2 separate regions of the Homo sapiens genome follow, and region 1 is linked to region 2. Evidence: fine-mapped expression QTL. A gene starts in region 2. The other region holds a variant in brackets. All regions are shown on one strand. Distances are from middle to middle. Region 1 holds the start of LNC-RHL1 (lncRNA regulator of hepatic lineages 1). Region 2 holds the start of APOA1 (apolipoprotein A1).

Region 1 (8,332 bases), 22 kb before region 2:
GCTGAATCACCCTCCTGCTTCTTCCACTTGGCCCCAGGGACACTGTATTCAGGCCTTTACCCTCCAGGCAGAAGAGTGAAAGACATTTCTTAGGGGAATATGTCCAGCTCAAGAGGTAAGACCCAAAGATTTTCACAATGGGGTTCCCCAGCTAAACATCTCAGTGGATCACCCTGCAGTGACATTCATAGTCAATAAGTACTACGCACGTATTGGAGCTTCAAATCACCTTTAAAATCTCCCATTCTTTTCTTTTTTCTTTTTGAGACAGAGTCTCGCTCTGTCACCCAGGCTGGAGTGCAGTGGTGCGATCTCGGCTCACTGCAAGCTCTGCCTCCCGGGTTCACGCCATTCTCCTGCCTCAGCCTCCTGAGTAACTGGGACTACAGGCACCTGCCACCACGCCTGGCTAATTTTTTGCATATTTAGTAGAGACAGAGTTTCACCATGTTAGCCAGGATGGTCTCGATCTCCTGACCTCGTGATCCACCCACCTTGGCCTCCCAAAGTGCTGGGATTACAGGCGTGAGCCACCGCTCCCAGCCCAAATCTCCCACTCTTAAACTTAAGCAACCAAGGATTACCAGTCATTTGAGGAAAGATTCTAACATGAAAGATAGAGACCCAAAACAAACAAATATTTAAAAAGGAAGTTAGAGAAAACTGAGAATATACAGAAAGAAGAACATTGAAAAATGCCATTAATAACATCAGAGAATGAAAAGATTACATTGATTAAACAAGAACAGGATAGTATAAAAAGACCTTCACAGAATAACAATAACAAAAACTCTTAGAAATTAAAAAAAAGATAGTAGAAATAAAAACTGAATAGAGAGTAAAGAAATAGTTCAGAAAGGGAGAGCATGTAGAGATTGAAGTAAGAACAAAGATAAGAAAATGAGAGGATCCACGCCGGGCGCAGTGGCTCACGCCTGTAATCCCAGCACTTTGGGATTTAATATAAATATATTAAATATTTTAAATAATATAATTTTAAATAATATAAATATATTAAATATATTAAATATTTAAATATATTAAATATTTAAATCTTTTTGTCTTGCTGAGTTGTATGAGATATATATATATTTATATATAAATATAGATATAAATACATATAAATATAAAAATATATATATATCTCATACAACTCAGCAAGACAAAAAGATTTATTAAATTCATTCAGTCAACAAATATTTATTGAATACCTACTAAGTTCTAGTCATCATGCTAGGCACTGACTGTTCAAGAATAAACATAGACAAGACTTCTGCCCTTTCAGAAACCAGCCAAGATTCTTCAACCCAAGGCAGCTGTGAAGTATAACACATCTCTGGCTCAATTTTCTCCATATGGTTTGGGGTTCCATGAATGAGTCTGTGGGAAGATTTCCTGTACGTAGAATGCATGTATAAAGGAATAATTATTCTATGGTTCGAAAGAGAAAAAAAGTAAGATCAAAGTGTAGAAGCTATGTTAAGAAAGATTCCAGTTTAATGATTTTTGAAAGAGCAGTAAAAATAAGACCAAGATGTGGAAGCTGTATTGAGAAAGATCCAATTTAATTCTAATAATCTTTAACAGAATTGCCCAAAGATAGAATGAATTGTTTTGAGAGATGGTACAGTTAGCTGTCAGTGGGAGTGTTCAATACTAAGCAAGATTCACTCGCTCAACCATTGAGTGATGACCACATGCAGGCACTGTGCTAGGCTCTCTGTATTTTCAGTAAGCTATTGTTGTACAACAAAGCACCCTAAAACAGTGTCTTAGAACAACAGTAAATGTTTATGATCTCTCACAAAGTCTGTGGGTCAGCAGCTTGGCTGTGTGTTTCTGGTTCAGAGTCTGTCATGAGGTTGCATCTGAAGGCTTGGCTGAGGCTGGAGGATCTGTTTCCAAGGTGAATCACTTTACATGGCTGGCAAGTTGGTGCTAGCTGTTTGGAAGGGGCTTCAGTTCCCCCCTGTGTTGACCTCTTCACAGGGCTGCTTGCACGTCCTCCCAACATGGCAGCTATCTTCCCTCAGAATGAGTGATCCAAGAGAAATCAAGGTAGGTGCCACAATGCCCTTTATGATCTAGACTTAGAAGTGAAATACCATGACATAGCCTATTGATCACACATCAGCCACCATTGTGAGGGCTAGCTACCACATCCTGCAAATACAATGATGAACAAACAAATGGTGTGCCTGAGCTCGAGGGCTGTTAGCCTAGAGTTAAGATCATTCCTTAAATGATATCAAAGGAATTAGGGCTGAGAGACAAGGTTGTTCCCTCCAACCCTAATGCCCTGTGATCTTATGATTCCAGGTCCTAGGTCTTTTGTTCCCATATCACCAATCCATTATCTCAGAACCAGCAGCTCACCAAACCCTCGCTCCTCAGATGTGGGCCATTCGGGGGTTTTTATTGTGCCCCTGCATTGTCAGCTACTTGTCATCACACAGCAAGATAGCATGACTCCACCCTGCACGCTCTCAGACAGGAGACAAGGGAGTGCCCAAATAACCCTAAGCTTGTTGTTTCTGTCCCCAGGACATACCTCAGCCTCCTCCTGGGAGCACAGGGCATACTATGATAACAGCAGGAGGACACGGCGTCCCCATGCAGGAGCTGCTTTTGATCCTGCCAGGACAATCCCTCAAGAGCAGCAAGGCCCTGTATGTACAGGAAGAGAGTGGCCCTCAGATCACTTCCCTTTGCCCTAATCAGGGCCACGTAGTACACCAGAGACCTCAGGGGTAGTGACCCTGGATGTTCTCAGAGGACTTCTGACCTTTGAACTTGGGGATGGGCATAGGAGTGTGGCTAGCATCTCAGCCTGGCCCAAACCAGTGCTGGTCAGCATGCCTTTGAGGCACTAACCCAGGCCCACAGAGGAGTCATCTACTTCCAAGTCACCTGAGGAGCCAGTGGTGACCAGGGAGATAATGGCCTGAAATTGTGCTGGCTCTGAGGGACTGTTGGGTAAGCTAATGTGGGCTGGGCTGGAGTTCAAACACACCTCCCTGGTGCCCACAGGGACCTCCCAGCACACGCTCTCCTATGGGTCTCAATGATTCAGTCTTTCCTGGTGGCATAGACTGTAGCCTGGAGAAGCTCTGGGGAATATTTCTTTTCTTACTTATTTCTGGTTTTAAAAGTACTACTCTCAGGATGACTATTGTTAAAAACAAAATAAAACAAAACCAAAAAATAACAGAAAACAACAAGCGTTGGAGAGGCTGTGAAGAAATTGGAACCCTGGGCGTCACCAGTGGGAATGTGAAATGGTGCCACTACTATAAAAAAACAGTTTGGC[G/A]GTTCCTCCAAAATTTAAATATAGAATTACCGTGTGACCCAGCAATTCCACTTCTGGATATTTGCTCAGAAGAATTGAGAGCAAGGACTGGAAAGATATGTGTACACCCCCATTCATAGCGGCAGTTTTCACAATTGCTTAATGGATAGAGTTTTCTGTTTGGGGTGATGAAAAGATTTTCAGAAATAGTGGTGGCGGTGGTTGCACAACATTGTAAATGTAATTAATGCCACTGACTTGAACACCTATAAATAGTTTAAATGGTAAATTTTATGTTATAAAAGTAATACTAAAGTGGTGGCATTTTTTTCTTTTCTTCTTCTTCTTTTTTTTTTTTTTCTTGAGACAGGGTCTTCCTCTGTTGCCCAGGCTGGACTGCAGTGGCATGATCTCAACTCACCCCAGCCTCAACCTCCTGGGCTCAAGCAATCCTCCCACCTCAGTCTCTCGAGTAGCTTGGACCACAGGTGTGCACCACCACACTTGGCTAATTTTTGTATTTTTTGTAGAGACAAGTTTTCGCCATGTTGCCAGGCTGGTCTCGAACTCCTAGGCTCAAGCAATCCACCTGTCTCAGCCTCCCAAAGTGCTGGGATTACAGGTGTGAGCCACCACACCTGGCCTAAAATGGCATATTTTTTTCTTTCTCTTCTTTTTTTTTTTTTTGGAGACAGAGTCTCACTCTGTCACCCAGGCTGGCAGTGGCATGATCTCGGCTCACTGAAATCTCCGTCTCCCGAGTTCAGGCGATTCTCCTGCCTCAGCCTCCCTAGTAGCTGAGATTGCAAGCACGCACCACAAAGCCCAGCCAATTTTTGTATTTTTAATAGAGGAGGGGGTTTCGCCATGTTGGCCAGGCTGGTCTTGAACTCCTGACCTCAAGTGATCCACCCGCCTTGGCCTCCCAAAGCGCTGGTAAAAAAAAAAAAAAAAAAAAAAAAAAAAAAATCCCATTCCACCACTTGCTAGGTAATGTACCTCACCATTCTGAAGTGCCTCTTCCTCATCTATTGTGTCTTTGATGTGATGGTCGATCATGAGAATTATATGAGCCAATATGGTAATATAAGGTGGTTTTTAAAAGCACCTCACACTACCAGCATTGCAGTCAGCAATGAATTGCCATCCTTGCATTGAAAAGCTCTACAACCGTTGCCACTGGGCATTTCTTATTGGCCATCATTTGTAGGGGGCTTTCACCTCCTCATGTATTCCCTGTTTTCCCTTCTGTGACCTCCCCTCCTTTCCTACTCTTCATTACCACCTCAAATGCCAGTGCAGGGAATGCACGGAACAATTGACTCCATCTCTCTGCCTTGTGGTCTCTTTCCAGCCAGTTCCTCTGGGTGTCCTGGTCAACAGCTAGCATGCACTGTCAATGACATTCTCTCTTTCAGAGGTATTCTAGGTCTAACTGTTAAGCTAACAGGATTTTCACTTCCTTACACGTTCACATACCAATATGTATGTGTGTTCCTTGACCGGGTTGTAAAGTACATAATAGTTGAAACCTTGCTTTTTTTTTTTTCATAAAATATCTTGGACATCTTCCCATAAATAAACAGATTCCCCAAACCAAACCAGAGTGTTTTGCTTGAACTCAGGACCTCATGAGAGATCTGAGACCAGCTGTTAGAGAATCTCTGAGAAGGGCAGGTAGAGGCTGTTGCCCAGGTCCCCAGTCAGCTCAGCCGCTGGAGAGGAGCAGAGGACTGACTGGCCACAGGGGGACTAAGTCCACCTGCTAGCTCAGAACAGGAGGAAGGCTGCTTTCCTTGGAAGATGGGACCAACCCTAATGAGGACTAATAAGTGTATCTCAGACAAACCAATTGACCAACTGGAACAGGCCAGAGATGAGGGTGTGTCTTCCAAGGCCCAAAGCAAGAGAAACATCCCTAAGAGGGAAGGGGTGTGTGGGGTGTGTCAATCAAAGTGATGTGTGTGTGTTTGTTTGTTTTTGAGACAGAGTCTTGCTCTTTCACCCAGGCTGGAGTGCAATGGCCTGATCTCAGCTCACTGCAACCTCCACCTCCTGGGTTCAAGCAATTTTCCTGCCTCAGCCTCCTGAGTAGCTGGGATTACAGGCGTGTGCCACCACACCTAGTTAATTTTTGTATTTTTAGTAGAGACGGGGGTTTCACCATGTTGGTCAGGCTGGTCTCGAACTCCCTATCTCAGGTGATTCACCCACCTCAGTCTCCCAAAGTGCTGGGATTACAGGCGTGATCCATCACGCCTGGCCTCAATCAAGGTTTTTAATTGCTAGCCACAGAAACCTACTCTGGAAGACATAATCAGAAGATGAACTTACTGACATATTTCCAGGAATTTCAAGGAAATGTCTAGGAAAGCTGGAGTACTTGGTTTGGAAAATAAACAAGAATAAGGGGAGCTGAGGGAGAAACATGGCCATGCTCATGCCACAGAACTAGAGTGATGGGGACGGCTGTGCTGTCACCACTGAGCCAGGATGGGGACAGCCCAGTTTGCCCACCAGCCACTGCCACGCCTGGTCCCTGGCCTGAGGCTCTAGCCTGGCCGCAAGCTGCCTGTTGCTGCCGCACTGTTCCTGCCCACCCCAGAAAAGATTCTCCACTGTCTCTGTTTCTTTACACCAGTCTGGGGCAATTACATCTGATTTGCTGAGCATAGGTCCCATGTCCCATGCTGGAGGTAAGCGAGGCTAGAAGGCAGGCGACTGGAGTTGTTAGTGTCTGTAATGGAGGCAGCCTCTGACTCCCACCAAAACTCATCAGCGAGACACTTTCGAAACAAAACAGGAGAGCTTCAGAGGCTGGGAAAGTGTCTTAGATCTTTTGGGCTTCTATAACGAGACACCAAAAACTGGGTGGATTACAAACAACAGACATTTATTCCTCATAGTCCTGGAGGCTGGGAAGTCTAAGAGCAAGGCACCAGCATATCCCGTGTCTGGTGAGGGCCCACTTCCTGGTTCATAAATGGCACCTTCTCGCTGTGTCCTCGCACGTGGAAGGGGCAAGGGATTTCTGTGGGGCCTCTTTTATAAGGACACTAATCTCATTCATGAGGGCTCCCCCTTCATGACCTGATCACCTCCCAAATGCCTTCTCTCCTAATGCCATCACCTTACAGATTAGAATTGCAACATAGGAATTTAGGGGGACGCAAACATTCAGTTCACTGCAGCAGCCAAAAGCAAAGTTACTACCAAGAGACCTCTGCCAGACCCAGGGGATTGATGAGACATCTTGGTACAGGAAAGAGAAGGCATTCCTCATCCAGGAGGACGAGGACTGTGGCAGGACCCTCAGAGACCTGCAGGATGGCCCTAAGGGTGGTGGGAGAGGTGCACGGGTCTAATCCAGGATTCATATATAGATATATTCATATCTATATTCATATAGATATGAATATATATATATGAATATCTATACATGAATATCTATATGAATATCTATATATGAATATCTATATGAATATCTATATATGAATATCTATGAATATCTATATATGAATATCTATATGAATATACATGAATATATGAATATATATGAATATATGAATATCTATATGAATATATATGAATATCTATGAATATCTATATGAATTATATATGAATATCTATATGAATATATATATGAATTATATATGAATTTATATATGAATATATATATGAATATATATATGAATTATATATGAATATATATATGAATATATATGAATATATATATGAATATATATATGAATATATATGAATTTATATATGAATATATATGAATTTATATATGAATATATATATGAATATATATGAATTTATATATGAATTATATATGAATATATATGAATATATATGAATATATATATGAATTATATATGAATATATATGAATATATATATGAATTATATATGAATATATATATGAATTATATATGAATATATATGTGTGTGTGTATATATATATATATATATATATTTTTTTTTTTTTTTTTTTTTTTTTTGAGACAGAGTTTCTCTCTTTTTGCCCAGGCTGGAGTGGTGCAATGGCGCGATCTTGGCTCACTGCAACCTCCGCCTCCTGGGTTCAAGCGATTCTCCTGCTTCAGCCTCCCAAGTAGCTGGGATTACAGGAGCCCACCACCACGCCCAGCTAATTTTTTGTATTTTTAGTAGAGACGGAGTTTCACCATGTTGGCCAGGATGGTCTTGATCTCTTCACCTCATGATCCACCCACCTCGGCCTCCCAAAGTGCTGGGATTACAGGCATGAGCCACCGCGCCCGGCCCAGGGTTCATATTAAGAACCAAGTTCTGGGAGACACTGAGGCCCCCAGGGGTTCTGGAGTCAGCACTAAACCAGGCAGCCCTCAGGTGAGGTCTGAGAGCATCTCAGAAGCTTCCAGACCCTCTTGGAACCCGGCCCACCCTGCATCTCACTTCCTTTTGGTGACTCGTTGCTCTGTTTGGCCTCATTGGCCCTTTCCTAAAGCCATCCAGTAAACCTCCAGGTGCCTGGTGGGTTTGTCAAGGTGTTTCCCCATAGGTTCCTGTGCTTCTAGTGGGGGTAGGTATCAAAGTGGCCGCAGCAGCCTTACTGGCCTGGTATGCAGGAGCGAGAGCAGCTGGGGCAGGGGAGACCCGGGGGTCTACCCTTGGCCAGCTGTGGCGGTCTCATTAATAGAGTGTGGCCTGGAGGTGAGCGGGATGAGGAAGTCACATTTACTGCAGCACCAGCTATTGCACGGTTATTCTGTGCCTGATGTTAAGTGCTTGACTCCGTTGCTCCATCAAACCTTCAGCACAACTCCTCTCTAAGCAGAGGATTGTCATTACCCATGTCTTCCAAAAGAAGCTCAATTATTCGCCCCACATCACCCGGTAGTCGGTCAAAAAGCCAGGATTCAAACCTAGGCTTGTCTGATTCCCAAGCATACATCCCTCCCACCAGGCCAGCACCAGGGGCCAGAGGGGTATAGGCCTGGGCCAGACCATGCTGGGGGCCACTACCCTGAGGGCACCTTGAGAGGGAAGGAGGAGGCCC
Region 2 (8,332 bases):
GTCTCTGGGCCTCAGTTTCTTCATCTCTAAGGTAGGAATCACCCTCCGTACCCTGCCTTCCTTGACAGCTTTGTGCGGAAGGTCAAACAGGACAATAAGTTTGCTGATACTTTGATAAACTGTTAGGTGCTGCACAACATGACTTGAGTGTGTGCCCCATGCCAGCCACTATGCCTGGCACTTAAGTTGTCATCAGAGTTGAGACTGTGTGTGTTTACTCAAAACTGTGGAGCTGACCTCCCCTATCCAGGCCCCCTAGCCCTCTTAGGCGCACGTGAAGGGAGGAGGCCGGATGGGCTAGAGGTTGGAGTAAGATGCAACGAGGCACTATTCTTGGCTCCACCACTTGATATCAGCCTCAGTTTCTTACATGTAAAGTGGATACAACCGTACCCCCTCCACCGTAGGTTTGCCGTGAGATTGAAATGAGAGAGCGTTCGAACCGTTTGGCACAGCACCTGCACGTAAAGATGCTTGATCAATGTTGTCATGATTACAGTTGAGCTGACTGGGCCCTTGGGACCCGGACTGGAGTGGTGGGGGGCAGTGTCCTGGGACCAAAAAGAAGCACAAGGTCTCCCAATAGAGGCTGCTTCCTTTGTGTCCCCACCACCCGAAAGATGTCAGGTCAGAGAGCCCGAGAGCTGCAGATGGCTTGAGTAGGGCTCCACTCTTCAGATCAAAAAACTGTGGCCCGGAGAGGCGAAGGCACTTGGCCAGCATCACAGAGCCAGCACGTGGCAGGGCCAGACCTTGAGCCCAGGTCAGCTGCGTGTATTCTGCTCAGTTGGTGCAGAAAACAGTTTTGTCACTCCTATGTCAGGTGTTAGGGACTCCTTTACAGATCTCAGTGGCATCAGTACATCCAGCCCCACCTGGAGACTGCTTTCTCTCTGAAAATTCCCCAGGGCTTCTCTCTGGGCTGAGAGATCTCAGCACCCGTATCTAGAAAATGTTCCCACCCAGACCTGGCTGGATGACTGCTGTTGTAGCTCTGGAAGGTTAGGAACTAAAAAGCCCACTCCTTTACCTAGGGTAGCTAAGATACACTGGAGATGGGGACATGGGGATGGGGCCGATTATCCAGGGGCCTGCATGAGGGGGCAAAAGGCCCTGCAGAGAGAGGGTAGGGAAGGCACTGCCCAGATCTGTGAAGCCATGTGCGTGCACGCGGGGACATTCAGACATGAGTGCAAGGAGGGACCGTGAGCAGGGAGGTCATGTGAGAATACACAGGCATGCCTGCACACCCATGTGAACTTGAGTGCCAGGCCACACACTCTTTTTTTTTTTTTTTTTTTTTTAGCTGGAGTCTTGCTCCGTCGCCCAGGCTGGAGTGCAGTGGCATGATTTCGGCTCACTGTGACCTCTGCCTCCCAGGTTCAAGCGATTCTCCTGCCTCAGCCTTCCTAGTAGCTGGGATTACGGGTGCAAGCCACCATGCCCAGCTGATTTTTTTTGTATTTTTAGTAGAGACAGGGTTTCACCATATTGGCCAGGCTGGTCTCAAACTCCTGGCCTGAAGTGATACGCCCACCTCAGCCTCCCAAAGTGCTGGGATTACAGGCTTGAGCCACCGCACCCGACCCGCGCACTCTTTTCAATAATCATGGATGGCCAGGGGTGCAGGGTCTAAAAAGCGCGGCCTAGCCCATCCTGCTGTTCACTGGGCAAGCGACGTCACAGGTCCAGGCTTCAGTGTCCTCATCCATGCTCTGCGTCTGATGGCAATCTAGCCAGGATGTGGGGAAGGGAGGATGCAGTGAGAGCACAGATATGAGAGCATCTTGGAAATAAAAATGTACCTGCAAGAGGTGGTGGTGAATTTTCTTACTCAGGCCAGCTTCTGCCAGGGCTGGCAGAAAGAGGGGGTGGCATGGCATGGAGCCGCAGGGGGTGGAGGACTGGCTTCCACTGCTGTGCCTGAGGAAGCCGCGGCTGTTTCTGGGCGGGATGGGAGTAGTGGGAGGGGGATACTGGCCTTGTGAGAAGAAAAGGGAAGTGTCTGTTTGAGAGGTTTTTGAATTAGTAAAGGAGGACAGGCGCAAACTCCAAGCGCTTCACTTGCACCCGGGACCAAACCCCAATCCCAGTGGCTGGCTCCCTGAGGCCGCCCCGCTCCGTCCCGCCCCGCTGACAGCGGCTGGGCTGGAGAAGGCTCTATACGGACACACCTCTGGGGACGGGGAACCCACTGCTCCCAGCTAAAGCAACCCTGTTTCCTGGCCCGCCTCAGACAGGGCTGCAGGCCTTGTTTGAGCCCCTTTCAGGGCACCTGGCCTTGGATTGTCTGTGGCTTTGCCTGGTCCGCTGTGACTTCCTTTCTACTTGAGCCTTGCTAAGGCAGACTCTACTCCCTCACTCGTAAGCAGCCAGGCGTCCAGCAGGTCCTCCAACGTCGATCTTGGCCCTAAGACGTCCAGTCTGGGCACGGAGTTGTTGAGATCCGGCAGGAAGTCCCTGCTCCAGGGCCAAAGGCCCCACCCGGGCTCCCCCGGATGTCCCCGCACCCCCCTCTATTCTCCCAAAAGAAAGAAGCTGCTTCCCACTTTGGAAACGTTTATTCTGAGCACCGGGAAGGGGGGCGGCGGCGGGCGCCTCACTGGGTGTTGAGCTTCTTAGTGTACTCCTCGAGAGCGCTCAGGAAGCTGACCTTGAAGCTCTCCAGCACGGGCAGCAGGCCTTGGCGGAGGTCCTCGAGCGCGGGCTTGGCCTTCTCGCTGAGCGTGCTCAGATGCTCGGTGGCCTTGGCGTGGTACTCGGCCAGTCTGGCGCCGCCGTTCTCCTTGAGAGCCTCAAGGCGCGCGGCCAAGCGCTGGCGCAGCTCGTCGCTGTAGGGGGCCAGATGCGTGCGCAGCGCGTCCACATGGGCGCGCGCGCGGTCGCGCATCTCCTCGCCCAGTGGGCTCAGCTTCTCTTGCAGCTCGTGCAGCTTCTGGCGCGCGCCCTCTTGGAGCTCTGCGCGCAGCGGCTCCACCTTCTGGCGGTAGAGCTCCATCTCCTCCTGCCACTTCTTCTGGAAGTCGTCCAGGTAGGGCTGCACCTTGGCCTTCACCTCCTCCAGATCCTTGCTCATCTCCTGCCTCAGGCCCTCTGTCTCCTTTTCCAGGTTATCCCAGAACTCCTGGGTCACAGGGCCGAGCTGTTCGCGCAGCTTGCTGAAGGTGGAGGTCACGCTGTCCCAGTTGTCAAGGAGCTTTAGGCTGGAGGGTGAGACAGAAGGGTTGAGGGCTGGCCTCCCAGCGCCCCAGCCTATCAGGGGTGAGCCCTGGGTGACACCTGTCCGCGGAGGTGCAGTGGCCTAGCATTTCCAGTACACTCTCAACCAACACCCCTGCCCCGCCAGGCCATGCCCCGTTGTGCAGCTGGACCGAGGCACAGAGAGGAGCTAAAAAGGAGACAGAGCTGGGACTAGTGCCCAGTTACGTTGGTCTCCAAAGTGGGCCCTTGAAGGACCTCGCTTCTATGCCTCCAGCGCATTCTCCTCTCCGAAGACAGCCCACAGTCTTGCTGGGCAGGAGCAGAGGAGGTGGTGAAGAAGGGAAAGGGGCTTGCTACACTTGCAGGCACAATGTGGCTCTGTGATCACGCATCGGGCAGCCCTGGTCTGTCCTTTGCAGGGGACATGGGCTGTGACCCTGCCTGGAGATCCCATTCCAGTTTCTCCATCCAGACCATCTGTGGGGCCCAGCTCATCAGATATTAGGTGAGGACTCGGCCAGTCTGGCTTCAACATCATCCCACAGGCCTCTGCCCCCTACCCCTGCCCTCAACCCCAGGCTGGGTCCTTACTTTAGCTGTTTTCCCAAGGCGGAGCCTTCAAACTGGGACACATAGTCTCTGCCGCTGTCTTTGAGCACATCCACGTACACAGTGGCCAGGTCCTTCACTCGATCCCAGGGGCTCTGGGGGGGTTCATCTTGCTGCCAGAAATGCCGAGCCTGGCTCCCTGAGGGTGGGAGGGGAGACCCAGATCAGGCCAGCTGTGGGCTGAGATCTGAGCCGAAAGGCCAAGCTTGGAGGTGGGGGAGAGGGGGCCAGTGAGAAACCTGCTGCCTCTGCCCAGGAGGGTGGGCCACGGGGATTTAGGGAGAAAGCCCCCCGATGGTTGGCTCCCTAGGTTAGGGGACACCTACCCGTCAGGAAGAGCACGGCCAAGGTCAGCACCGCAGCTTTCATCCTGAAGGGCCGTGGGGGACCTGGAGGAGAAGAAGGGCCTGGCTGAGTGGGGTGCCTTCAGCATGCAGAAGCCCCGTGCTCCCCCACTCATTGCAGCCAGGTGAGGAGAAGGGCACAGAGCGGGAGAAGACCTCAGGTACCCAGAGGCCCGGCCTGGGGCAAGGCCTGAACCTTGAGCTGGGGAGCCAGAGTGACCGGGGCAGGCAGCAGGACGCACCTCCTTCTCGCAGTCTCTAAGCAGCCAGCTCTTGCAGGGCCTATTTATGTCTGCAGCCAGGGTCTGGGCTGGGAGGCTGATAAGCCCAGCCCCGGCCCTGTTGCTGCTCACTGGTCCTGGCAATGTGGAACTTAAGAGTTCAAGGATCAGCTCTGTCCCTGGGGCTGGGCAAATAGAGTGGGCAAACAGCAAGCTGCGGGGGCTGCAGGGCAGGGGTCAAGGGTTCAGTGGGGGCGGGAGGGGAGTGTCTGCAGGCTTGCAGGTCTCCCGGGTGGGGTCGGGGTTCCCTGCACTCATCCCCTTCCCCTCCATGGGAGTGTGTGGGCAGTTGCCATTGTCCATTGTGTTGGCAGAGGAGGGGAGGGGAGGGACGCTGGGACTCCTCCACCAAGGAGACTGCCTCCCCCACCACCAGCATTCCAGGGAGACTACTTCACTCCCCTCCCCCTTCCCCCGCCCTGTCCTCCCACCAGTGCTCTTCTTTAGTCCCCAGCAGGTCCTCCAGGCCTCTCTCCAAGCCTCCCAAACTGGTAAACCTGGGGAGAGGGGAGAGCCCTCCGTGGCTCCCAGACTGAGGTTTCGGAGACCTCTTGCATTTCAAAACACTCCAGAGATCAATTCGGAGCTGCCAACTTTTAATTTTGTCATGTAAAGATATTGTCCGCCTCCAAAAAACCCTCACCATCTACAGTGACCATCACTTCAAAAAGGAAAGGCTTTAACAAAAAAGGGCATAATCTCAGAATTACATTACAGAATTGAAGCCCCTTAGATTGAAGACGTCTCCCTTTGCATTGTTCACACTTATATTTGATCACGCACAGGTGTGACTGGATCTCAGCCCTTGGGAAGCCCTGGTGTGGGGAGAAGACCTCTGGGCAAAGGAAGTGGCAGGAGACCTGCTTTCTCATTTCACTTGGCCTCCATCTTGCTGGAGGAAGATCGTGGGCAAGTTATATAATCTCTCTGAGCCTCGGTTTTCTATCTGCAAAATGGGGCAAGAATGGTCAGGGTTGTTGGAGGCCCCTGAGACAGCCTGTGAATGTAAAGTGCTGTGTGTCCGTTGGTGTTTGCAGCACCATCTTGTCAGGTTTCTCCTGGAAGGCCCAGACCTCCCCCAGCAGGTTACTGATAGGACCTGAGTCCTAGAGCCTGTGATGCAGGCTGAGAGGAACTGTGACATCACTCCAGCCTCTCCCCATGCCACCATCTCACAGATGAAGAGACTGAAGAGCACAGAGGGACTTTGCCCAGAGGCTGTCATCTCTCAGGGAGTTAGAAGAAAGGCTGGACCTAGAACCCAGTCTCTGGACTTGGGATGCAGGGCAGAAATGTACCCTGTACCATCACTCCAGGAAACTCCCTAACACTAGAAACCAGGCTGACATCTCTGTTTACCAGATCAGGGAGTGGTCGGCCTCATGCCTTTCACTTCAGAGAAGATTCTGGAGCCAGAAAACCTCAAATCTAAGGGTCAGGCAGGTTCAAATCCAGCTGCCTGACCCTGGATGAGTTATGATACATCACCTCCCCACACATCAGTTTCTGATTGAAGATAATGATAGAATATGCCATCGCCCTGAGTTATGGCAGGGGTTACTGTGTGGCAAGCAGAATAACGCTCCCCAAAGATGTCCACAGCCTCATCCCTGGAACCTGTGGCTTTGCTACCTTCCATGGCAAAAAAAGATTTTGCTAGTGTGATTAAGGACCTGGAGATGGGGTGGTTGGCCTGGATTCTCCAGGTGGGCCCATTGTCATCACAGGGGTCCTTAATTATACAAGAGGGAGGCAGTGGCCTCAGAGTCAGAGAAAGAGATGTGAGGATGGCAGTGGAGATCAGACTCGTGACTGCTGGAAGGGGGCCATGAGCTGAGGGACATGAGCAACCCTTCCCTAGAAGCTGGAGAAGGCAAAGGATTTTTCCCTGCAGCCTCCAGGAGCACAGCTCTGCTGCCACCATGATTTTAGCCCAGTATGACCCATTTTGGACTTCTGTCCTCCATAACTGTAAGATAATAAATTTGTATCGTTTTAAGCATGAACTTTGAACATATATGCAAAACTGTTAGAAAGGTACCTAGCACTTAGTAAACAGTAACTATTCTGTTTTCTAGAATCCCAGTTTCTGGTAATGTATTCCCTTATTCCCACTACACTTGCTTTATCAGATCTGAGACCTCAGCTTCTGCAGCAGGCATGAAGGCAGCAGTCCCACATCTCTCTGCTTGTCCTTGACTTGCAGTTGCTGAGATATGGAACATCTTTTCTAGGACTGAAGTGGCCCCAGATGTCTATGGGACTGTGTAGACAGGGAGGTGGCCTTGGTGAGCCATCAGCCTGGGCTGCCTACTTGACCATCCCAGCTGTCTGTAGCTTTAGAAAGTGGGAAGGTGGCTGGTCCCCTGCTGGGACAGCTCACAGGTGTCTCGGGCCAAGAGAGCGTCTTTTCTTTTGGGGGGTAGAGTTTGTCCCAGTCAGCACATGGGGGAATCTCAGAAGCTTACTGGTTGGACTCCAAGATACTTGCCAGTGTTTCACCCTTCTCTTTGGTTTGTTACTAAAATGATTGTTATGGCTAAACCTAGTATTTAACATTTGCGCAGTTCTTTGTGGCCAAAGCACTTTCACAACTTAGAATATCCCTATAAGGCTGGAGGCCAGATTTTACCCTTGTGATTTTTGCCTGTGGGAAAACTGCAGCTCACAGCTGCCCTGCATCCTTCAGCGGTTACTATTTAGCGCTGGCAGGGGTGGGAATCGGGAGGCCTGGCTTCTAGTTCTTTGAGGGTGGCCTTGCACCCTTGCGGAGCCTGCAGCCTTTGCAGTCTGATCAGGGACTTCTCAGTTTCCTGGCTCAGGGACTGCGAGGCATCAGGATAGGGGGTGCTGTTGAACAGCATCTTACCAAGCAGGCAGTTTCCTTTTCTAAATATACTTATTCACCAGGGTGGCTACTCCATTTTATTGCAAGGTATTTGGCTTAAACTAGTCTAAGCCCCCTTTACTAATATTTTGGAAAGGAAGGAGGTCTTTCTGGACAGAGCTGATGGAAAAATACATAACAACAACAACGACAATAACAAACTGGGTTGATGACACACTCAGACTCAGGGTCCAGCCAGGCATTGTTCAAGGCACTCAGTGGCCACGGGTTGGACTGTTTGGTGGCTGCGGGGCCCACAGTGTAGGCCCCTGTTTCCACCCATTTCTTTCCCTCGTCTTGGGAGTCTCCAGAGCGACTGCTCCTGAACAGGGTTACCAAGTCCTGGCCCTGGATGCCCTGACATGTGTAGGAGTGTTGGCGGTGACCGCAAGAGTGGATTTTGCACAGAAAGATTAGCAACTCCTTTCACAATTTATGTCCAAACATACTGGTCCATCTGTATCGGGAGGACTCTGTCCCCTGCTAGGTCTGGCACATAACAGACACCTGCCAAACATCTGCTCAGTGAATGGCACTGGCACCCTAGAGGGAGGGTCACCAGCCTGGTCATAGGGAGGAGTGGGTCCTGGGAGGGGAGGCAGTCTCATACCAGCCCCTGCTCAGAACGTTTCTTCTGGGAGCACGTGGTATGAGCCAGAATGAGAGTTAGGGAGGGGAGGTGGTGACTGAGCAGGGGAGACAGGACCCCCACCCCCAGTAGTTCCTACTTTTGGCAATTTTGCTGCAGCTTTTGTGATAGAGCCCCAAGTTAGACCCTTGGGTGGGGCACCGTAGCCAGCTATGCAAGATTCTCTCCTGCCCTCCTGCTTGGAAAAGACTAAGGCCAGGACAGAGCTCATCTTTGATCAGCAGGAGGGAAGCACAGTAGCCCTCTGAGTTCTTGATCTTTGCAGTTGGGGTGGGGTGGGGGCTGGCACAAAGTCAGAAAGAAAACTGTGTAGAGCACGGTTTTCTGTCAACATGGCTCCTGTTTTCTGGAGCTAAGCTCT

Evidence for each region.
Region 1: its variant is fine-mapped to the expression of APOA1 in atrial appendage (GTEx, PIP 0.97).

Annotation. Positions count from the first base shown.
Region 1 is chr11:116,811,365-116,819,696 of GRCh38, forward strand. It overlaps LNC-RHL1 (lncRNA regulator of hepatic lineages 1), which reads right to left and starts at 2,818. Exons shown (of 2, transcript XR_007062898.1): 1 at 2,552-2,818; 2 at 1,545-2,089. The variant G/A (reference allele first, on the strand shown) is at 3,311.
Region 2 is chr11:116,833,209-116,841,540 of GRCh38, forward strand. APOA1 (apolipoprotein A1) reads right to left here and starts at 4,414. Exons shown (of 4, transcript NM_000039.3): 1 at 4,397-4,414; 2 at 4,137-4,199; 3 at 3,793-3,949; 4 at 2,543-3,203. The coding sequence starts at 4,179. The coding sequence ends at 2,600. It also overlaps APOA1-AS.